Homo sapiens: one gene and its partners. The protein of the gene in region 4 purifies or fractionates together with the protein of the main gene of each other region. This does not show direct contact. Each region holds a gene or a part of one and is shown on either strand. Other genes may lie near its edges. The genes, in order: GLUD1, PNPT1, PITPNB, ALDH6A1, MME, KIAA1191 and FAXC.

What was found.
Region 1: the proteins of ALDH6A1 (region 4) and GLUD1 fractionate together in Homo sapiens (co-fractionation; one large-scale study listed by BioGRID). This does not show direct contact.
Region 2: the proteins of ALDH6A1 (region 4) and PNPT1 fractionate together in Homo sapiens (co-fractionation; one large-scale study listed by BioGRID). This does not show direct contact.
Region 3: the proteins of ALDH6A1 (region 4) and PITPNB fractionate together in Homo sapiens (co-fractionation; one large-scale study listed by BioGRID). This does not show direct contact.
Region 5: the proteins of ALDH6A1 (region 4) and MME fractionate together in Homo sapiens (co-fractionation; one large-scale study listed by BioGRID). This does not show direct contact.
Region 6: the proteins of ALDH6A1 (region 4) and KIAA1191 purify together in Homo sapiens (co-immunoprecipitation; one large-scale study listed by IntAct). This does not show direct contact.
Region 7: the proteins of ALDH6A1 (region 4) and FAXC fractionate together in Homo sapiens (co-fractionation; one large-scale study listed by BioGRID). This does not show direct contact.

Annotation. Positions count from the first base shown.
Region 1 is NC_000010.11:87,074,344-87,077,843, reverse strand, and holds part of GLUD1 (glutamate dehydrogenase 1, mitochondrial isoform a precursor), read left to right. Parts: intron 1-1,187; coding exon 1,188-1,268; intron 1,269-1,820; coding exon 1,821-1,876; intron 1,877-3,229; coding exon 3,230-3,293; intron 3,294-3,500. UniProt on the Homo sapiens protein: Mitochondrial glutamate dehydrogenase that catalyzes the conversion of L-glutamate into alpha-ketoglutarate. Plays a key role in glutamine anaplerosis by producing alpha-ketoglutarate, an important intermediate in the tricarboxylic acid cycle.
Region 2 is NC_000002.12:55,641,845-55,645,344, reverse strand, and holds part of PNPT1 (polyribonucleotide nucleotidyltransferase 1, mitochondrial precursor), read left to right. Parts: intron 1-624; coding exon 625-708; intron 709-1,919; coding exon 1,920-2,026; intron 2,027-2,131; coding exon 2,132-2,187; intron 2,188-3,500. UniProt on the Homo sapiens protein: RNA-binding protein implicated in numerous RNA metabolic processes. Catalyzes the phosphorolysis of single-stranded polyribonucleotides processively in the 3'-to-5' direction. Mitochondrial intermembrane factor with RNA-processing exoribonulease activity.
Region 3 is NC_000022.11:27,895,257-27,898,756, reverse strand, and holds part of PITPNB (phosphatidylinositol transfer protein beta isoform), read left to right. Parts: intron 1-864; coding exon 865-956; intron 957-1,619; coding exon 1,620-1,627; intron 1,628-2,130; coding exon 2,131-2,205; intron 2,206-3,500. UniProt on the Homo sapiens protein: Catalyzes the transfer of phosphatidylinositol and phosphatidylcholine between membranes. Also catalyzes the transfer of sphingomyelin.
Region 4 is NC_000014.9:74,060,454-74,063,953, forward strand, and holds part of ALDH6A1 (methylmalonate-semialdehyde/malonate-semialdehyde dehydrogenase [acylating], mitochondrial isoform 1 precursor), read right to left. Parts: intron 294-3,500; coding exon 189-293; 3' UTR 1-188. UniProt on the Homo sapiens protein: Malonate and methylmalonate semialdehyde dehydrogenase involved in the catabolism of valine, thymine, and compounds catabolized by way of beta-alanine, including uracil and cytidine.
Region 5 is NC_000003.12:155,181,319-155,184,204, forward strand, and holds the end of MME (neprilysin), read left to right. Parts: 3' UTR 1-2,386; downstream 2,387-2,886. UniProt on the Homo sapiens protein: Thermolysin-like specificity, but is almost confined on acting on polypeptides of up to 30 amino acids. Biologically important in the destruction of opioid peptides such as Met- and Leu-enkephalins by cleavage of a Gly-Phe bond.
Region 6 is NC_000005.10:176,348,664-176,351,764, reverse strand, and holds part of KIAA1191 (putative monooxygenase p33MONOX), read left to right. Parts: intron 1-1,027; coding exon 1,028-1,152; intron 1,153-3,101. UniProt on the Homo sapiens protein: Potential NADPH-dependent oxidoreductase. May be involved in the regulation of neuronal survival, differentiation and axonal outgrowth.
Region 7 is NC_000006.12:99,270,668-99,273,671, reverse strand, and holds the end of FAXC (failed axon connections homolog), read left to right. Parts: 3' UTR 1-2,504; downstream 2,505-3,004. UniProt on the Homo sapiens protein: May play a role in axonal development.

The DNA of each region.
Region 1 (3,500 bases), on a different chromosome or scaffold from region 4:
CTGTTGGGAGTGGGAGGGTAGAAAAAATGCTGCAGCTTCTTGTGGGTATCCTTCACACACAAACACCCAGTGCCCCAAGCACTGTGCAGTCAAACATCAACCCCACTCAGACTTTCCTCCTTGGGATTGAGAAGCAATGGATTATAGAGAAAGAAAGGTGGATTAGCACTCCAAAACTTTGAAGAGTAATTGACCAAGACCCCCAAAGCCAAAGCTGTGGGCATCCCCACTTCCAGTATACCCTGTACCAACACGTAATGGCTACTAGATACAGGGGCACTAGTACCTACCTGTCTGCTTGGCTACCTGCCCTCTTTGCAGAAGTGGTGAAGGGAATCACTCAACCTCAGAAAGGGAAAATGGCTTTCTCATTTTCAGATTGAAAGAGGTTGGCAGTGGGTGAGGAGAATAACAGGTAAGGATCTCTTTTAATATACCCATTTGAAGCCAAAACCTCTGTTTAGACATACGGTATTTTGAACCTGGTGATTATTCATTGCCCATGTTTGTGAATTATCAGAAAGCAGAATTCTTGCCAGGCATAGTGGCTCATGCCTGTAATCCCAGCACTTTGGGAAGCCAAGGTGGGAGGATCACTTGAGCCCAGGAGTTTGAGACCAGCCTGAGCAACATGGTGAGATCCTGTCTCTACAAAAAATTCAAAAATTAGCTGGGCATGGTGGTGTGCACTTGTGGTCCCAGCTACTCAGGAGGCTGAGGTGGGAGGATTACCTGAGCCTAGGAGGTTGAGGCTACAGTAAGCCATGTCTGTGCCACTACACTCAGCCTGAGCAACAGAGCAAGACCCTGTTTCCCACCCCTACCCCCCCAAAAAAAAGCAACCTGAATTCTTGAACTCCCTGCAACCAGGTCACCCAAACCAAAGGTAAAAGGAACATAAAAAAGCCTTCTGGAAAGTGTACAGAAATTCATTGCAGGGTGATTTTTGTCTTGTGAAATCATAGTTACTGTTATTAGCAGGTTTTTTTAACGTTTTATATTCATTTTTCATGGTGTTCTGATGTACAAGCTGCTTCAAGTGTTTTTGGACATAGCTTGGATGTAAAATGTAAAAAGTGGATATTTTCAATTTGTAGCTTTCTTTTTTGAAGCTTACTTAAGTTTGTTCTAAATATAACCCCTTCTTTCTCACCCACCCCAACACATTTTTTTAAAAACACCACCAGGTATCCGTTACAGCACTGATGTGAGTGTAGATGAAGTAAAAGCTTTGGCTTCTCTGATGACATACAAGTGTGCAGTGGTTGGTAAGTGATCGCCTTTCTTGCTGCCTAATGAGAACTCTGGGGAAATATGTTTACACACATGTTACTGTTAAGATGCTGTAGAAATATACCTTATCAGAACTGATTTTTTTTCAAGTTGTAATCTTTAAGACCTGCATCATTTTTCAATTAGTCTAAATTAAGATATAGCCTTTTTTTTTTACATGGGGGATTTTTTAAAATAGGAGATAATTGGATTTTAAGTCTAGATCTTTGTTTTCAATTCCTCAACACATTCTGTAAATAAGACCAAATTATAGTAGAAGGAGAGTAAATAAGCTATTATCTTTTAGAAGTGGTAAAGAGCACTGATTAAATATATATTAGAACTTGGCTAGCCAATTTTATTGAACAATTTCTGTTCAACAAAATGTTGTTTAAAGTACAGTTTAGAAAATGATGGTAGGTTTATTTCTTGAATTTTCAGAAATTCAAGCTTAAAGCATCACGTTTCTCTAATATTGTGTGGTGCTTTCTGTCATTTTACTTTTTTAACATTTATATGGAATAGCAACCATCAGCCTTCTCTTTCAGATGTGCCGTTTGGGGGTGCTAAAGCTGGTGTTAAGATCAATCCCAAGAACTATACTGTAAGTATGAAAGTGATATTTGTTTTTTATTGTTGTTGTTGTTTTTGTTTTTCTGAGACAGAGTCTTCCTCTGTTGTTCAGGCCGGAGTACAATGGCGCAATCTTGGCTCACTGCAACCTCCGCCTCCCGGGTTCAAGCAGTTCTCCTTGATCCAGTAACTGGGATTACAGGTGCACGCCACCATGCCCGACTAATTTTTGTATTTTTAGTAGAGAGGGGATTTCACCATGTTGGCCAGGCTGTTCTTGAACTCCTGACCTCAGGTGATCCACCTGCCTTGGCCTCCCAGAGTGCTAGGATTGCAGGCATGAGCCACCGCACCCGGCCTCAAAGTGACATTTGTGCACACAGTGCATTTATGAAGGACTTGAAATTACTGGGCTTCTCTGTATCCCCCACTATCAGTGAGATCAGTAGTCCCCATTGCTTTTCAAATGGAATAGAAAAATGTAAAGAATTAACTCATAGCGTGTTTTGCCATATAAAGATCACCTACTTAATATCTATATCCTTTATCATTTTCTGTTTCATTTGGTTTTGTTTTTATGAGTCTTTTGTTTTACTTTTTTGCTTTTTGTTTTATTATTTTCTTACTTAGTTAAAACGTAATTAATATCTTCACTTATATACTTATACCCATATTTATATAATGTCTTCACTTAGACACTTATACCCATATTTAAGAAATACTGTGATCTGATTAGCCAGGCATAGTGGTGCACACCTGTAATCCCAGCTACTCGGGAGGCTCAGGCATGAGAATTGCTTGAACCCAGGAGGCAGAGGTTGGCTGAGATTTCACCACTGCATTCCAGCCTGGGTAACAGAGCAAGACTCTGTCTCAAAAAGAAAAAAGTATTACTGTGATCTGAAGTTTTTATGTCAGGATCTGATTCTAGTGACACATATCTTAACTAAGACTATAAAAACCTTACTTTTTATCCAGTCAGTTCCAAGTTAATTCAAACTGATTGTCACAATGCTTTACATAATACTAAATTATCTATATACAAACATAAATGCATGATTTTTATTCTCTTTAAAATTCACCATTTAAATGGAATATAATTATATTTAAATTAATCTTAATTAAGATTTAGTGTATTTTTCAGTGGGGAATTAATAGAATGGGAATTTGAGCCCTAGTTCTACTATCTTGTTTTTATAACCTACTTTTTTGATCCCTTATTTTGTCACCTTTAAAATGGCAATGCCTACTTTATGAGTTGTTCTAAGGATTACATGAGAAGACATATGAAAATGTACTATAAATAGAAAATAAGATGCTAGCTATAATCTCAAGCGATTTTTATATCAATTTTTTCTTTTGTTTTTGTTTTCTTATTTTACAGGATAATGAATTGGAAAAGATCACAAGGAGGTTCACCATGGAGCTAGCAAAAAAGGGCTTTATTGGTATGTGTAGCCACATAGTTTTTGGTATAAAGTGGGAACATCTAAAAATTTTTTTTTTTTTTTGAGACGGAGTCTCACTCTGTTGCCCAGACTAGAGTGCAGTGGTGCGATCTCGTCCGCCTCCTGGGTTCAAGCAATTCTCTTGTCTCAGCCTCCCAAGTAGCTGAGATTACAGGCATGTGCCACCACACCCAGCTGATTTTTGTA
Region 2 (3,500 bases), on a different chromosome or scaffold from region 4:
TACATTAAAATTTTAGTGATCGGCTGGGCGCGGTGGCTCACGCCTGTAATCCCAGCACTTTGGGAGGCCGAGGCGAGCGGATCACAAGGTCAGGAGATCGAGACCATCCTGGCTAACACGGTGAAACCCTGTCTCTACTAAAAAATACAAAAAATTAGCCGGGCGTGGTGGCGGGCGCCTGTAGTCCCAGCTACTCGGGAGGCTGAGGCAGGAGAATGGCATGAACCCGGGAGGCGGAGCTTGCAGTGAGCCGAGATCGCGCCACTGCACTCCAGCCTGGGCGACAAAGTGAGACTCCGTCTCAAAAAAAAAAAAAAAAAAATTTTAGTGATCATGGTAAGATAAACATTAATATATGAATGAATATTACTGCTTTTAAATTGTTTTTACCCAGTGCACAAAACGAAAATATTTTAAATACTTTTGTAGTTAAAATGCTTTAAATTTTAGGGAATATTCTTTAACAGTTTTCAGTAATTTTAATCATCTACTTTTCTGTTTTATAGTAAAATATTTTTACATGTGTCTAGGTCAAAAAAAAAAAAAATCTCAAGTGACCATGGCATGTTTTAGGTTCATGTATGTAGTTGAATTGTTTATATATTTGTCTGTATTACGTTCCAGAAACTGTTCAGGTTCCATTATCAAAACGAGCAAAATTTGTTGGACCTGGTGGCTATAACTTAAAAAAACTTCAGGCTGAAACAGGTAAGAGTTGTATGAAGTTTGGGGTTTTTTAATTAAATGCTAGACCATAAAAGTTTGCTATTTCATCTCTAGTATGTTGCTTTAAATATATATTTATTTGAGAAATGAGAGAAAGACCAGGAGAAAAGGATATGACGTGTCTTGACTGTGAGTTTTCTGTGTGCCTATTAATAAATTAGCAAATGGTCATTCTTAACTAAATTCAAGAAGGATTACAAAGAATTCATCAGGACTTTTTTGCAACATTTTATAGTTGAACATCTAGAATAATTTTTAGTTTTTAACTTTAGAGGAATTATTACTTAGTTATTTCTTTTTATTCTGCTACTTTCACTTAGTTTTATTTTAACTCTTTTATTTAAAGAGTATATAAAAAAAAGCTTTAATTTATTTTTCCTGAAGCAATGTTTGAATTACCTCGTACTTCAAGGTTTGAGGTTACTGCAAGAGAGTGAGAAGCACTGTCACCTTAGCCATTTGCTAACACTGAGAAACTGATGTGATTTTGTCCCTTATTCATTTATTCACCCCTCGTAAGAGTAAGCGGGAGAAAGAAAAAAAGTAAGGAAAGGGTTCTATTATAGTTTCTACTCGTAATTAAGAGAGCAGAACCAGACTCTCCAAAATTTGTATAGATATATTTGATTTCACTAGATGGTGAATTTCAAGAAATCAAGCATATTGGCTCACCATTGTATCCCCAGGGCCTACCTAGTATAATGCCAGGTACCTAGCAAGTATGCAGAGTGTATTTGTTGATGAATGAATTCCTTCATTCCTAAAGTAATGATTAAATACAGCATAACTCCACCCAGCTACTAATAGGTCCCTCCTATTCTCACATCTATTTTTAAGACGAGTTTCCACTGGAATGAGCAAGTTAACTTTTTTTTTTTTTGAGATGGGGCCTTGCTCTGTCACCCAGACTGGAGTGCAGTACACAATCACAGCTAACTCCAGCCTTGACCCCTGGGATCAAGTGATCCTCCCGACTGTGAGTCCCAAGTAGGTGGGCACATGCTACCAGGTCCAGCTAATTTTTGAATTTATTTTTTGTAGTAACAGGCTCTCCCTATGTTGCCCAGGCTGGCCTTGAACTCCTGAGCTCAAGTGATCCTCCCACCTCAGCCCCCCAGAGTGCTGGGATTACAGATGTGACCCACTATGCCCAGCCAAGTTAACTTTAATATGTTACATTTTGTTTTTAAAAGGTGTAACTATTAGTCAGGTGGATGAAGAAACGTTTTCTGTATTTGCACCAACACCCAGTGCTATGCATGAGGCAAGAGACTTCATTACTGAAATCTGCAAGGATGATGTAAGTATAGATCATATTAATTACGTATCATATAGCTATATTTGTTTTTTCTACTTTTTGTTGATGTTTTCTTTATGAATCTTATGGCTTATTTTGCACTTACAGCAGGAGCAGCAATTAGAATTTGGAGCAGTATATACCGCCACAATAACTGAAATCAGGTAATATCAAGTAATATACTATGCTGAGCATTTTCCTTTCTTTAGAGACAGGGTCTCACCCTGCCACCCACAGTGGGATACAGTGGTGCCATTGTACCTCACAGCTGCCTTGAACTCCTGGGATCAGGCAGTTCTCCCACCTCAGCCTCCTATTTAGGACTACAAGCACACACCACCACACGTGGCTGATTTTTTAATTTTTTTGTAAAGACATGGTCTCACTATGTTGCCCAGGTTGGTCTTAAACTCCTGGCCTCAAGCCATCCTCCTGCCTCAGCCTCCCAAAGTGCCAGGATTACAGGCATGAGCCACCGTGCCCAGCCCTGTTTTGGTTTTTAACAGATTCCTATTATAATCCCAATTTAATTTTACATTTACTTTGAAATCATAAGGTGTTTAGATTACATGCCAATTGCCATATAATCATTATTTTTTAAGGTATAGTATATTTTGTTTTCTATATCATTTTATAAAATTAAAGTAGCAGTTCTGTGGTTCTAATTATGATAGGTTCTCTTAACTGAATTCTTTTTTTTTTTTTTTTTTTTTTTTGGGACAGAGTCTCGCTCTGTCACCCAGGCTGGAGTGCAGTGGTGCGATCTCAGCTCACTGCAAGCTCTGCCTCCCGGGTTCACGCCATTCTGCCTCATCCTCCCCGGTAGCTGGGACTGCAGGTGCCCGCCACCACGCCTAGCTAATTATTTTTTGTATTTTTAGTAGAGACGGGGTTTTACCTTGTTAGCCAGGATGGTCTCGATCTCCTGACCTTGTGATCCGCCCCCCTCGGCCTCCCAAAGTACTGGGATTACAGGCTTGAGCCACCGCGCCCGGCCAACTGAATTCTTTAACCAAATTTTCTACTAGTAATTGGTGAAACCCCAAATTAATTTTCCCAGTAAATATTAAATAGGCCCAAAATAGACTTAGCAATATTTCTTTATTTCTTTTTTTTTCTTTTGATGGCTTATTTTAAACATATCTGAATGCTTAATTGGCACATATTTTTAAATCCAATTTCGGCTGTGCATGGTGGCTCACGCCTGTAATCCCAGCTCTTTGGGAGGCCAAGGCAGGTGGATCAGGAAGTGGGGGGTTCGAGAGCAGCCTGACCAACATGGTGAAACCCCATGTCTACTAAAAATACAAAAGTTAGCCAGGCATGGTGGTGCATGCCTGTAATCCCAGCTACTCAGGAGGCTGAGGCAGGAGAATCGCTTGAAGCCGGGAGGCAGAGGTTGCAGTGAGATGAGATCGCACCACTGCACTCCAGCCTGGGCGACAGAGCGAGACTCCATCTCAAAAAAAAAAAAAGC
Region 3 (3,500 bases), on a different chromosome or scaffold from region 4:
GAATATACTTAAGGCAGCAAGTGACATTCATCTCCCATACCTACAAAATTTTATACTTGGATATGCTTTAATTTCTCATTTTCTGCATGGGTCCTTTACATTGTCATTTTTCTTCAGGTCTGTTCTATAAAATGTATTCAGACTTTTATTCAGAGATATCTCCTTATTCTGGGGCTTTTTGCATTAAGAAACAGTATAATGTCATCTAACTCTTAAGAACTACATTGTATTAATGTGCAGATTGAATAGCTGTTAACTCTTAGGTTTTACATTGGGGTAGTAGATCAGAAGTTCTTAAGAAATAATTGCTTCTATTTAAAAAAAAAAAAACCACACACACACACACAAAACCTTTTATACAGTTAATTTTTTTTTTCCTTGTGAGACAAGGTCTTGCTCTTTTGCCCAGGCTAGAGTGCAGTGGTGTGATCTCAGCTTGCTGCAACCTCTATCTCCCAGGTTCAAGTGATCCTCCCACCTGAGCCTCCTGAATAGTTGGGGCTACAGGCATGTGCCACCATGCCTGGCTAGTTTTATATTTTTTGTAGAGACAGGGTTTCACCATGTTGTCCAGGCTAGTCTCAAACTCCTGGGCTCAAGTGATCCTCCTGCCTCAGCCTCTCAAAATGCTAGGATTACAGGCATGAGCCACCATACCCAGCTAAATATTCTTAATCATTTTTATTTAAAATGTAAAAAATTATGTGTTCATTTCTACTGGATTACTTTAGGATTGAAATAAACTAGTTCATCAGACTTAGAACCTGGTCACCTTTGATTGCCATACTCTTTCAAGCAGTTGGATAGATACCAAGAAAGAATTGATGGTGCTGTTAAATATATCCAGTATCTCTCTTCTCCCAGCAAAGTGCCTGCATTCGTGAGGATGATTGCTCCCGAGGGCTCCTTGGTGTTTCATGAGAAAGCCTGGAATGCGTACCCCTACTGTAGAACAAGTAAGCTTGGCCCCCAGCAGCCATTGCACCCCTCCACCCTGAGAATGAGAGGGATTCCCAGTACCAGTGTCTTTGAGAAGGTTTACACTGAGCAAGGTCTTCCTTGGGTTCTTGGATAGTCACTGCTAGAATGATGGCAGAGGAAGGGCTGCATTGGGTTCCTCCCCCTAGAACTTTGTGACAGGCATAAGTTCATTCCCACATGGCAGCCACTTTGGGGTCCTAGCTGACTATGCTGGCTCCAGGGGTAAGCCAAAAGAAAGGTCGTTTACACTCAGAAGGGTGTTTTGGTGTGTTTCAACAGTATTTTACTTAAATTGCTACATAATAGAGGAGGAATAGGACAGACTTCTGAAACAGCATCCTATCATTTGCTAAATTGACCTTATAAATAATGTTTTGCTTTTGTGACATTATTATTCTTTTTAGCATTATTTTTAAAATTAGATTATTGTTCATATTTTATTTGTACTCCATAATCTAATGTACTGTATAGTGTCACTTGTGTGGAAACTGTTTTGCAGACATAAATTACTAAATAAATGTTCTGTTTTCAGATAGTTTAGTCTTTGTGACATTAAGTATTGGGACAGATTGTTTTGACTCCAATTAATATTCTGAAATTTTTCTCCTTTCATTACCTACCTCTCCATTATGCCTCAGTTGTAACGGTGAGTAAAACTATTTTTGTGTCTCATACTTTCTTTATCTTTAAACTTTGTTTTACACAGTAATTATTTTCAACCATTCTTTGCTAACTGCACCTCGCTGCATGGTTCCTTCCTGTGTCCCACCAACCAGCCGCCACACTCTACCACATGTTCCCAGTGTTCATGGGCCCTTTCCACCCTTGTCTCAAAATCTCCCTATTGATTTTATTTTGCTTTTGTTACTCCCTTCAAACGCCATATTTGTTTATCAGACCTCACAGCTTCTTTATTAGCCCGATATGCCACGTGGCAAGTAGAATTGTTTAAATTATTTAAAAGCATGTAGCATTTGGTTTGCCTGACAAGTCTATAAAAATCGGTAGCCAATGATTCTTTGTCACTTGAGTATCAGTCTCCTTGTAGAGTCAAAGCATGGATGCCTATACTGGGAAAAGCTCCCTCAGACGTGGGCACCAAGGAACAGGTAGAAGATCACTGTCATTTTCCTGTTGTGTTTTCTGCAGAATGAATATATGAAAGATGATTTCTTCATTAAAATCGAAACATGGCACAAACCAGACTTGGGAACATTAGAAAATGTAAGTTTCAACTCTGCACTTTTAGTACAAAAGTCCCTGGAAACGAGAATTCTATATGTAGTTCACTTTGTCATCATCAAAGTAATGTCACCTGTGTATCTGACCGCACCAAGCTGTGTCAAATTGAGATGAGGCGGGCAAGCAGCCAGAAACCAAATAGGCTTTCCCTATCAGTCCGCTTGCCTTGACACTTTGGTAAAGTTGCTGTTTTGATCAGCAACTCTCTTTATCCGAGACAAGGAGAGCATGAATAAACAAAATTCACAGATAATCCCCAGCCCAATTTTAGCCATTAGTTTTGCTAATTAGATTGCTTTTATATCTGAGTGTTTGTCAGAGCTGCTCTGCATAGCAGGATTGATTGCTTTAATTTTTACCTCTTGTCTGCTTTGCAAGGGTATGGGCTCATGTTAGAGAAATGGCCAAAAGGCAGGAGGGATAAAGTACTTGAATAACTTACAAAAATGTTGAAAAGCTGTTGACTTATATAAGTTGGTTCACATTTATCTCTTTAAGATTCAAGAACATCTTTGAGTTAGGACTTAAAAAAATGTAATCATTAACTTTTGGTAAGGTTTGTCGTGGAACTTGGGAAGTCCTGTTGTATAGGTTGATGCCCTTGGTCTAGGAGTTCTCAAAAGTGTGGTCTTTGGATGGGCCAGCAGCAGCACAGTATCTGAGGACTTGTTTGAAATGCAAATACTCTGACCTCACCCAAGAACTACCGAACCAGAATCTCTAGGGGTGGGACTCAGCAGTTTCTGTTTTCTGATGCACATTCATTCCAGGAGAGTAGGTTAATGATTGTGGCAAATTCTGTTTTTACTGTTCTATTACGGTGCTCTTACGTTATTGATGCCAGTTAATAGAACTTTGAATTTTAATATGTAGTATTTTACTTGAGTTTTCTTTCAAGTGATCATTTGACATTTTATGTTGTTTTTCTTTTTGTTTTTTTTTTTGAGACAGAGTCTTACTTTGTTGCCCAGGCTGGGGTGCAATCACGTGCTGTCTGCTCAGTGCAACCTCTGCCTCCTGGGTTCAAGCAATTCTCCTGCCTCAGCCTCCCAAGTAGCTGGGACTGCAGGCATGCACCACCATGCCTGGCTAACTTTTGTATTTTCAGTAGAGATGGAGTTTCACCATGTTGGCCAGGCTGGTCTTGAACTCCTGACCTCAGGTAATCTGCCTGCCTCAGCCTCCCAAAGTGCTAGGATTACAGGTGTGAGCCACTGCACCCAGCCTTTATGTTGTTTTTCTTAGTAATCCTCTATAATTTATAATCTAGATAAGAT
Region 4 (3,500 bases):
ATCTGGTTTCATTGTTACACTAGGCAGTTCCCTATAGAAACTTTGCGGGGGTTAATAGTCCTGAGGAAGATTTTAGTTACAATGTATTCCAATCCCATCGATCTGATCTGAGCAAAGCTGACAAATGAAGCTGGTCAAAAATAAAGGGAGATTACTCAGGATGGAGTCAGTCTTAAACAAACTTGTTTCTAACGGCCCATGGTAGGCATGACAACAGCAGGTGAGGAAAGAGTAGCATCTTCTTCTTTCCACTGAGAAGTAATGGTCTTTAACTGAGTGTAGAATTGGATGCCCTAAGGAAAACAGAAAAAAAGTTAGCATATATTTCTGGGGTTTCATGATTCTTCTTTTAATTAGCTTTTGAAGGAGGTATTATAAAGTGCTACTCACTTTCCTAATTGAGAAATGCAATCAGAATCCAATATATATTGTTCCTAAGATAATTGATCTAAAACATTTAACATAATACCTGGCAGATAGTAAACAATCAAACCTTAGCCATCATTATTATGCTGAAACTAGTATTTCTTTCTTTTTTGTTTGAGATGGAGTCTTGCTCTGTCACTTAGGCTGGAGTGCAGTGGCATGATCTCAGCTCACTGCAACCTCTGCCTCCCGGGTTCAAGCAGCTCTCCTGCCTCAGCCTCTCGAGTAGCTGGGATTACAGGCACCTGCTACCACGCCTGGCTAATTTTTGTATTTTTAGTGGAGATGGGGTTTCACCATGTTGGCCAGGCTGGTCTCGAACTCCCGGCCTCAAGTGATCCGCCTTCCTCGGCCTCTCAAAGTGCTGGAATTACAAGTGTGAGCCACCGTGCCCCCAGCTATTATATAGTAGGCCATTTATTTATTTATTTATTTATTTTGAGACAGAGTCTTGCTCTGTTGCCCAGGCTGGAGTGCAGTGGTGTGATCTTGGCTCACTGCAACCTCTGCCTCCCAGGTTCATGTGATTCTCCTGCCTCAGCCTTCTGAATAGCTGGGATTACAAGTGTGTGCCACCATGCCCAGCTATTTTTGTATTTTTAGTAGAGAAGGGCTAATTTCAGATTAGCCCATGTTGGCTAGCACCATGTTGGCCAAGCTGGTCTTGAACCCCTGACCTCAGGTGATCCGCCAGTCTTGGTCTCCCAAAGTTCTGGGATCACAGGCATGAGCCACTGTACCCAGCGGCCATTTCTGATAATTATCAGAGATCATGAGCTCTATATTGAAGTGGCAAACCCAAAGTATCTTAGAAATCTAAAGTAAAATGTCTGACATTATACAAATTCACTTCTCAATTACCTATAACATGTGAGCCCAAAAATTCAGCATATTTAACTCTCTCTATATATAGATATAGTTTATAAGAGTAGGCTTGAGCAAAAGAGAATACATTGTGCAGATCTAACACTTATATAATTACTAGCAAGCTAGAATGACATTTTACCAGATTACCAGAGTAATTTATAATAATTAAACTGGGGGGTGCAGCCAGGAGCGGTGGCTCACACTTGTAATATCAGCACTTTGGGAGGCTGAGGTAGGCGGATCACTTGAGGCCATGAGCTCAAGACCAGCCTGGCCCAACATGGCGAAACCTCGTCTCTACTGGGAAAAAAAAAAAAAAAAAAAAAAAAAAAAAGCTGGGCGTGGTGGAGCCTGAGGCAGAATTGCTTGAACCTGGGAGGTGGAGGTTGCAAGTGAGCCGAGAATGCACCATTGCACTCCAGCCTGGGCAACAGAGCAAAACTCCCATCTCAAAAAAATAAATAAATGGAGAGGGTGGGCAGGGAACAATTTTTAAACAATAGTTGTACTCTGTTTTGCTTAAAAGAAATGTTACTAGTATCAAATTAGTCATTTTTACAAAAGCTGTGACTAGGCCGGGTGCGGTGACTCACTCCTGTAATCCCAGCACTTTGGGAGGCCGAGGCAGGCAGATCACCTGAGGTAAGGAGGTCGAGACCAGCCTGGCCAACATGGCGAAACCCCGTCTCTACTACAAATACAAAAATTGGCGGGTGTGGTGGCACGTGCCTGTAATCCCAGCTACTCGGGAGGCATAGATACGAGAATTGCTTGAACCCTGGAGGCTGAGGTTGCAGTGAGCCAAGATCATGCCACTATACTCCAGCCTGGGTGACAGAGAAAGATTCCATCAAAAAAACCCCAAAACAAAAAACCAAAAGCTGTGACTAATATACAAACTATATAATCAACCTCCAAATACCAAAGTGTTGACTTCTTAACCATTTGGCCACACTGTCATAATGCTATGCAATCCCATTGTTAATTTTTTAATAACCCAAACATAAATAAAATAAAAAAGCCCCACATCCCTCGCCCTGTGGCAGCACATAGCTGGCACAGAAAAAAAAAATCAACCTATAAAAGGGGAGACTTGTATAACAAAACATGTAATTTATTAATGAAGGTTTCAAAATGGCTCTAGTCCTATGACTAGAAAGAACTTCCCCTAGCCTATTTGTTCAACAAATGTTTGGGCAGCCTGCTCTGTTCCAGGTACTGCAGATAAGTAGATAACAACTACAGTCTGATGAGGGCTTCTTTAAATGGCTTAAAGAGCCCTACATGACTCAACCCCTGCCTGCCTCTCTAACTTCATTTCTTCCTTTTCTTCTCATTTGCTCACTGTGCCCCAGCCCATTTCCGCTGTCTGAATGTGCCATGCTTCTTCCTGCCTCGGGACATATGCACCTGTTGGCCGATGTGGCAATAGTAATAATTCTTCTTTTTTTTTTTTTTGAGATGGAGTCTTGCTCTGTTGCCCAGGCTGGAGTCCAGTGGTGCAATCTCGGCTCACTGCAACTTCCGCCTCCCAGATTCAAAGGATTCTTCTGCCTCAGCCTCCCGAGTAGCTGGGATTATAGGCACCTGCCACCACACCTGGCTAATTGTTTTATTTTTAGTAGAGGGGGTTTTGCCATGTTGGCCAGATTGGTCTCAAACTCCTGACTTCAGGTGATCTGCCTGCCTCAGCCTCCCAAAGTGCTGGGATTACAGGCGTAAGCCACTGCACCTGGCCAATAGTGATAATTCAGTCCTTACAATGTTATGAAATACATAGGTACTATTGTTATTCATTTTATACGTGAATAAATTTAAGGCATAAAGAAGGTATCCTGGTTGGCTGTGGTGGCTCATGCCTGTAATCCCAGCACTTTAGGAGGCTGAGGCAGGCGGATCACCTGAGGTCAGGAATTCGAGACCAGCCTGGCCAAAATGGTGAAACCCTATCTCCACTAAAAATACAAAAATTAGCCAAGTGTGGTGGTGGGCATCTGTAATCCCAGCTACTTGGGAGGCTGAGGCAGGAGAATTGCTTGAACCTGGGAGGCGGAGGTTGCAGTGAGCCAAGATTGTGCCACCGCACCCCAGCCTGTGCGACAGAGTGAGACTCTGTCTCAAAAAAAAAAAAAAAATTAATGGTATCCCCCAAAGTCAGACAGCTAATAACTGGCTTAGCTGGGATTTGAACACAGGCAATTTGGTTC
Region 5 (2,886 bases), on a different chromosome or scaffold from region 4:
TACAGATGAAAATTTGAGACTATTTAAACTTATAAATCATATTGATGAAAAGATTTAAGCACAAACTTTAGGGTAAAAATTGCCATTGGACAGTTGTCTAGAGATATATATACTTGTGGTTTTCAAATTGGACTTTCAAAATTAAATCTGTCCCTGAGAGTGTCTCTGATAAAAGGGCAAATCTGCACCTATGTAGCTCTGCATCTCCTGTCTTTTCAGGTTTGTCATCAGATGGAAATATTTTGATAATAAATTGAAATTGTGAACTCATTGCTCCCTAAGACTGTGACAACTGTCTAACTTTAGAAGTGCATTTCTGAATAGAAATGGGAGGCCTCTGATGGACCTTCTAGAATTATAAGTCACAAAGAGTTCTGGAAAAGAACTGTTTACTGCTTGATAGGAATTCATCTTTTGAGGCTTCTGTTCCTCTCTTTTCCTGTTGTATTGACTATTTTCGTTCATTACTTGATTAAGATTTTACAAAAGAGGAGCACTTCCAAAATTCTTATTTTTCCTAACAAAAGATGAAAGCAGGGAATTTCTATCTAAATGATGAGTATTAGTTCCCTGTCTCTTGAAAAATGCCCATTTGCCTTTAAAAAAAAAAGTTACAGAAATACTATAACATATGTACATAAATTGCATAAAGCATAAGTATACAGTTCAATAAACTTAACTTTAACTGAACAATGGCCCTGTAGCCAGCACCTGTAAGAAACAGAGCAGTACCAGCGCTCTAAAAGCACCTCCTTGTCACTTTATTACTCCCAGAACAACAACTATCCTGACTTCTAATATCATTCACTAGCTTTGCCTGGTTTTGTCTTTTATGCAGATAGAATCAATCAGTATGTATTCTTTTGTGCCTGGCTTCTTTCTCTCAGCCTTACATTTGTGAGATTCCTCTGTATTGTGCTGATTGTGGATCTTTTCATTCTCATTGCAGAATAATGTTCTATTGTGGGACTTATTACAATTTGTTCATCCTATTGTTGATGGGCACTTGAGAACTTTCCATTTTGGCGCTATTACAAATAGTGCAACTATGAATGTACTGCATGTTACCATCTTACTTGAGCCTTTAATGGACTTATTTCTTCAAATCCTTCCAAAAATTATTATAAGCATTGAAATTATAGTTTCAAGCCAACTGTGGATACCCTTACCCTTTCCTCCTTTATCACAACCACCGTTACAAGTATACTTATATTTCCCTAAAATACATTTAAAACTTACCTAAGTGACATTTGTAGTTGGAGTAATAGGAGCTTCCAGCTCTAATAAAACAGCTGTCTCTAACTTATTTTATTTCCATCATGTCAGAGCAGGTGAAGAGCCAGAAGTGAAGAGTGACTAGTACAAATTATAAAAAGCCACTAGACTCTTCACTGTTAGCTTTTTAAAACATTAGGCTCCCATCCCTATGGAGGAACAACTCTCCAGTGCCTGGATCCCCTCTGTCTACAAATATAAGATTTTCTGGGCCTAAAGGATAGATCAAAGTCAAAAATAGCAATGCCTCCCTATCCCTCACACATCCAGACATCATGAATTTTACATGGTACTCTTGTTGAGTTCTGTAGAGCCTTCTGATGTCTCTAAAGCACTACCGATTCTTTGGAGTTGTCACATCAGATAAGACATATCTCTAATTCCATCCATAAATCCAGTTCTACTATGGCTGAGTTCTGGTCAAAGAAAGAAAGTTTAGAAGCTGAGACACAAAGGGTTGGGAGCTGATGAAACTCACAAATGATGGTAGGAAGAAGCTCTCGACAATACCCGTTGGCAAGGAGTCTGCCTCCATGCTGCAGTGTTCGAGTGGATTGTAGGTGCAAGATGGAAAGGATTGTAGGTGCAAGCTGTCCAGAGAAAAGAGTCCTTGTTCCAGCCCTATTCTGCCACTCCTGACAGGGTGACCTTGGGTATTTGCAATATTCCTTTGGGCCTCTGCTTCTCTCACCTAAAAAAAGAGAATTAGATTATATTGGTGGTTCTCAGCAAGAGAAGGAGTATGTGTCCAATGCTGCCTTCCCATGAATCTGTCTCCCAGTTATGAATCAGTGGGCAGGATAAACTGAAAACTCCCATTTACGTGTCTGAATCGAGTGAGACAAAATTTTAGTCCAAATAACAAGTACCAAAGTTTTATCAAGTTTGGGTCTGTGCTGCTGTTACTGTTAACCATTTAAGTGGGGCAAAACCTTGCTAATTTTCTCAAAAGCATTTATCATTCTTGTTGCCACAGCTGGAGCTCTCAAACTAAAAGACATTTGTTATTTTGGAAAGAAGAAAGACTCTATTCTCAAAGTTTCCTAATCAGAAATTTTTATCAGTTTCCAGTCTCAAAAATACAAAATAAAAACAAACGTTTTTAATACTATTGCTTTTATGCCTAGTCAACTCTGTTCCAAACTGCCAACTCCTGTGTAAATCTCTACCCCATTTATTTCTTGAAAAATATTAAGATTAAATGGAGCTTTTATCTCTGTAGTCTTGCATTTCCCACTAGCTTCAAATTGAATTTTTAGAAAATGAATGATATAAGCTTTGTATCCATTATGTCCTTGTTTTCCCCACCCTTTTTCAAAGATCACCATGACTTTCTGATTGGATTTTTTTTCAAAAGTGAAATGGCCATCAAATGTTATATGGAGTCACTAGCATAATCAGATGACTTAGGCAAAAGCCAAAAGTAAGTGTCTTTATCCACAGTCTCTAGTCTGAAGAAGTTGACCATTTGGTTGGTCAAGTGGACAGAGGAGTCACATCTGACTGGTGGTCAAACTGGCACATGTTTATCGCATTCTAATCTTTTATCTAACAATGGTTTCTTAATTTCTGCTTCTTTGTATTTTGCATTTCCTCTAAAACAGTGAGAAA
Region 6 (3,101 bases), on a different chromosome or scaffold from region 4:
TTGTTTTGAGACAGAGTCTCACTCTGTCACCCAGGCTGGAGTGCAATGCTGTGGTCTCAGCTCACCACAACCTTCGCCTCCCAGGTTCAAGCAATTCTCCCACCTCAGCCTCTGGAGTAGCTGGGACTACAGGCGCCCACCACCACGCCTGGCTAATTTCTGTATTTTTAGTAGAGATGGGGTTTCACTCTGTTGGGCAGGATGGTCTCAAACTCCTGACCTCGTGATCTGCCCGCCTAGGCCAACCAAAGTGCTGGGATTACAGGTGTGAGCCATCACGCACCACCTATACTTTGATTTTCTTATTCACATCTGTTGAATCAGCAACACTACTTTTATTTTACAAGCTTGAGAATGTGTTCTAGCAGTGTTACAAAACTTATTCATTGTTCTTTTAGCACAATGTAACTTTTTTTTTTTTTTTGAGATGGAGTCTTGCTCTGTCGCCCAGGCTGGAGTGCAGTGGCACGATCTCGACTCACTGCAAGCTCCGCCTCCCGGGTTCACGCCATTCTCCTGCCTCAGACTCCCGAGTAGCTGGGACTACAGGCGCCTGCCACCACACCCAGCTAATTTTTGTATTTTTAGTAGAGATGGGGTTTCACCTTGTTAGCCAGGATGGTCTGGATGTCCTGACCTCTTGATCCGCCCGCCTTGACCTCCCAAAGTGCTGGGATTACAGGTGTGAGCTACTGCATCCAGCCCCATGTTGCATTTCTAAATACAAAGAAAATGTCACCATGTACAACTAAGAGGAGGGTGGGAGTATTGTCCTCAAGGTTCTTCAGCTGTCCCTTTAGGAATAACCTCTTCAGCTTGGTGTGAGGGAAGGCTTCCTTCTGGCTAGAGAGCCTTTGTGTGAGGTTCAGAATTACTGCTGTGGTGCCTCTCTGGGGAAAGTCTCCTCTTCTTTGAATGGTCAGTGTGGTCTCTTGCTTCTGGGGAGAATAGTAGATATCCATGTTGTCCTCCTTATTTTGTGATGGGAGAGGGGAATGGGCATGACTGTCATCTCCTCTGTTCCCAGAACAGACCCAGGAAAGCATTCAGCATTTTGAGCGACAGGCAGGGCTGAGAGATGCTGGCTACACACCCCACAAGGGCCTCACCACCGAGGAGACCAAGTACCTTCGAGTGGCCGAAGCACTCCACGTAAGCTCTTAGGAACTTTGAAAAAACAAAACCTTCAGTGTTCATGGCTTGAAATGTGGCTGTGGTTTTGAAGTTACCAGCTCAGTTAGTTGGGGGCTGTGGAGTTAGTCTCGCTCCCGAGCTCTTAGCCTCGTAGTTTTTGCTTATCCACCTATACAGTGGGGTGTCTGTTTTGCTACTTCTGGTTAGCAGAATCAAGTGAGAGCCTCAGCTTACATATACATAGGAGTACTTTATGAATCATAAAGCAAATGTGGAGTATCTTGGGGAGAACTGGGCAGCCTCAACAGAGGTAACAGCTTAACTGGAAAGGAACAAGTTAAAATCAAATGTGGAATTGGAATGTTTTTGCTATTTCATTTCTATAAGTGAAGAATTTTGGTAAGGGTTAATTTAGTGATAGCCAAGTATTTGAATGAATAGTTTCAAATGACTTTCTTTCAGTGAAGACCGCTTCATACTGGATAGTGTTTTATGATTGTGAAGCACTTGCATTCATTTCATCCTCACAATCACCTTTTGGGACAGATGCTCTTCTCCATATTTTGTAAATGAGGAGATTGAGGTTCGAGGCCATCTATTCAGCCAGTCATAGTACCCGAACCCAAGTCTCCTGATGCCTTACTTCCTGTTGGCTTCTTCCTCCTCATTCCAAAGCAGCCTGGAAATCTGGCTCCTGAAGGGGCTCATATGGAAGTCAGGGGCAGATTGTGAAGAGACACAATTACAGTTAAGAAACTTGGGCTGTCTTCTTTAGGCAAGGGGGGGTCAGAATCCAGGCTTGTTCCAAGCTTTATTTTAAGAGTTCTGAACAGGGTATGATGAGGGCAAGGTGAGGAGAGCACACGACGCAGGAAAGAATCATGGTATACATTATACATAACGAGGAATAACCCGGATCTGGTGGCCTGTGGGTGGGGATATAAAACTGTGGATATAAAACTGTGGCCTGTTTGCAGTCACCCAGGCTGGAGTACAGTGTTGTGATCTCGGCTCACTGCAACCTCTGCCTCCCGGGTTCAAGTGATCCTCCCAACTCAGCCTCCCAAATAGCTAGGATTTACAGGCATGCGCCACCATGCCCAGCTGATTTTTAGTAGAGATGGGATTTCACCATGTTGGCCAGGCTGGTCTTGAACTCCTGACTTCATGTGATCCACCTGCCTTGGCCTCCCAAAGTGCTGGGATTACATGTATGAGCCACCGCACCCGGCCCTGTTTGCATTTTGTAATGAGCATTCCAGATGATTCTTTTGCAGGCTAGGTTTAAAAACTGCTATAGGAAATCAGGTTTGGGCTGGTGGCCAGTTTAAGCTTTCAAACAAGACAGAAGCTTCCAGAGAGGGGCACCGGCAGCCTTTGACCCTTAACTGAGAACTTTCCAGGATAGGTCAGTGAGAATTCTATTTGAGCAATTCACCTTATATAATGGTAGGATTGACTTTGGTTGACCCACTTTCTGTGTCTTGCCCATAGGAGTAGAACATGAGGATGGCTGAAATATTAGCTGTAACTTACATCTTGTAACAGATTGTCAACTTACATGAATGGATCTGTTGAGCGTTTGAGAAAATTCAAACGTGATCATTGTTTGGTGTGCAGCTTGGGTTAAGCAGTGGCGTGGCAGGCCTGGAGGGAGGAAACAGCATGGGAACCTTGCTCTAGAAGAGCTGAGATGTAGACCTGTCTCTCCCCACTAGACTGCGAGTCAGAGGAATGCTCACGGTGCTGAGGGAACCCAGAGTGGCTGACTATGGGAGAGAAGGAGGAGAGAATGGAACAGGCTCCTCAGAGGAAGCATTTAGCTGGAGAGAAGCAGCATGCCTGAGTATTGGCTTGGAGAGACTGAGGATGGGCAGGGCTTTGTACATGGTAGGAGCAGCAGCGAGACAAGAGCTTAAGCCCTGCTTAAAAGGCCAAGAAGGCTGGCAGCTAGCGTTCTGGCTCTT
Region 7 (3,004 bases), on a different chromosome or scaffold from region 4:
ACGCATGATTTTAGGTCAAGGTATTTAATTATTTTTACTTAAAATAGGCATTTTTGGTTGGGAAAGAGAAGGATGAACAATTTGATGTCACCTTTAAGACTGATGTTTTTAATTCTGCTTTTGGGACCACTTGATCTAGAATGCCTTGAAAATTCCAGAAAGATTTAACAACACACTGAGGTAAGCAAAACAAGAAAAGAAAGTAGGGGTGAGGTGATACCCAGATAATGCAAATGCAGGATGTATTGTCTGTGAATTTCAGCATCAATCTGAAAAACATGTTTTGATAATGCCTGATAATTCATCATCTCACTGATTACATGTCTTTTTTTCTATTTGTTTATAATCTTGTGTCTTCAAATGTGTGGAAGATGTGCAGACTTATTTTTAGGTATCTGAGATAGGAAGGGCCAATGTTGGCATAATTTGAACCCACATTTCGGGGCTAATGGGCGGACACCACCTGGAAACACTTACCTGCACCCTCTGTTTTGCAATCACAATGATTAGCATCTTGCTGAATGATGACCCCAATGTGAAGATGGCATTTCAGTGTTTATTTCTGGATCTATGAGTTACTTTAGCAGAGTTATTAGTAGTTTATAAAGCCATATTTAAACTTGTACACTTGATTGTAAGATAGATTTGAATTGTGCACTATGTTGACTACTGTATATAAATGTGGAAATTCTGTATATTTGGTCTTAATGCTATATGTATTTGATGTGTAAATGATAACTAATGGATATGAAATAGTTTTCTGTGAATGTCTTTCTTCCAATTTACTTCTCTTTTGCAAATTTGAATGTTTAAACTTCAGGCTCATGGGGAAAATCTGAAATGTTTGCATCTAATATACTGTTAAGTGGTGGTCTCTTAGATGACTGGGAGAGTATTTTAGTTGTAAGGCTCTTGTATAATTAAAACAGAGGTAATGAATTTTTTAGGCATATAACTTTGATAGAATTTCAAGTGAGTGGCTTTTAAGAAGAAAAACAGATCTCTGGAATATGCTGTCCCATCCTCTCCTGCTTTTATTTCATGCCCAGTGTGCCTCAGAGTGTTACGAAGTGTGAGAACCACTGGTAGAGAGAAGACAAGGAGGAGAGGGAGAGCTGGGAGCACATGTTGAGACCTTTACTATGGCTAGGCCTTATAATAGACCAATTTCCCCTTGTATAAATATTGTCTCAATTAGGCAGGGTGCAGTGGCTCATGCCTGTAATCCCAGGACTTTGGGAGGCCAAGGTGGGCAGATCACCTGAGGTTGGGAGTTTGAGACCAGCCTGACCAACATGGAGAAACCCTGTCTCTACTAAAAATACAAAATTAGCCGGGCATGGTGGTGCATGCCTGTAATCCCAGCTACTTGGGAGGCTGAGGCAGGAGAATCGCTTGAACCCAGGAGGTGGAGGCTGCAGTGAGCTGACTTTGTGCCATTGACTCCAGCCTGGGCAACAAGAGCAAAACTCCATCTCAAACACACACACACACACACACACACACACACACACACACACACACATATAGTCTCAATTAGTTTTCATACCTCTTCAATAAAGTAATTATTGTTCCCAAATTACAGATGAAGAAAGACGTTTGGGATGATAAACTGGCATATGGTAATATGGCCATGATATGCTCAAGTCTTTAGGGTCAGAGATTCACAGCAAGATTTTGGAAATTCAAATCTTACTATGAAGTGATTCACACATGTGTATGGTAATGAACCTTAAAGGATAGCTGGGCCTATAGGCATGTCAAGATCTATAGAGACATGCAGGATGTTTCAAATTCTATCTTAAAATTTGACCAAATCTTTGGTCAAATAATAATACTGTTACTCAAATATTAGCTTTTTACCATTTAGAGCAAATTACAATCAGGTAACATTCAAAATTCTAACCCTCCCTTCCCAACATGGGAATATCTATTAAGTAGGAAATGAGAGAACCCCCTAATTTCCCATTTCAGTGATAATACTGATTGAGTATCTCTTATCTGAAGTGCTTGGGACCAGAAGTGTTTTGGATCTGGGTTTTTCTCAGATTTTGAAATATTTGCATTATACCAGTTGAGTATCCCAAAATCAAAACTGGAAATCTGAAATGATCCAATGTCCGTTTCCTTTGAGTGTCATGTTAGTGCTCAAAAAGTTTTGGATTTTGGAGCGTTTCAGATTTTGGATTTTTGGATTTGGGATGCTCGACCTGTAGTTTGGTTTTCATCTTTTTAGACTCCATTTCTCTTGACCTATAAATCCTATCAGCCCTGTTTATTAACATAGACCCTAGTCAGAAATACTTTGAAATAGATCTACATCTACTTCAACGTCAGTTGGTTCCACACCCTTCTAGAACTTGTGTGGGGTCCTGGACTTCCCGTCTGTCCTGTTAGGGAAGCTTTGCTGTCCTAGCTTTCAGGACTCATCAGAGGGAAGAGGGTCATTTACCTTTCCAATGTGCTGTGATCTCAGAGTCGTTAAAATACATGTTTTGCTGCCATTTGTACTGTTTCTTGACTCAATGTTTCATATTTCTGTTCTTCTTTCCTTTTAGAGGAGAGGCGGAACAGCTGGTCTCCCTGCTCTCTCAGAAGCTGCTTGATTTGTTTCTAGATGACGCCACTGGCAGGCACTCATTAGATCTTTCACAGCTGGGCTGGTTCCCATTAGCAACAGACTTTTCTTTTAAAAACTGTCAAGGTCAGAGCAGCTTATCCTTTGGATAAAAGTGGATTTTGGAGGAAAAAAAAAAGAGGAAAAAGAACCAGCTTCCTTCCTTACGGAATTAGCGTGTTGCTGCCCCGTATGCCTAAGAGGTCTATTTTAGTGCCAGCGTTCTTGTTATGAAGACTTAGGGGGTCGTCTCCAGTGGAGGGACTGTTCGGATTGGAGGGTTACGTTCACCTACCGCAGGGTATGTTGGGCCTGGGCAAACACACTGGGTAACCTGTGCTCAACATTATATACAGGTAAATCTGGATGAAAACAAACATGAAAGGC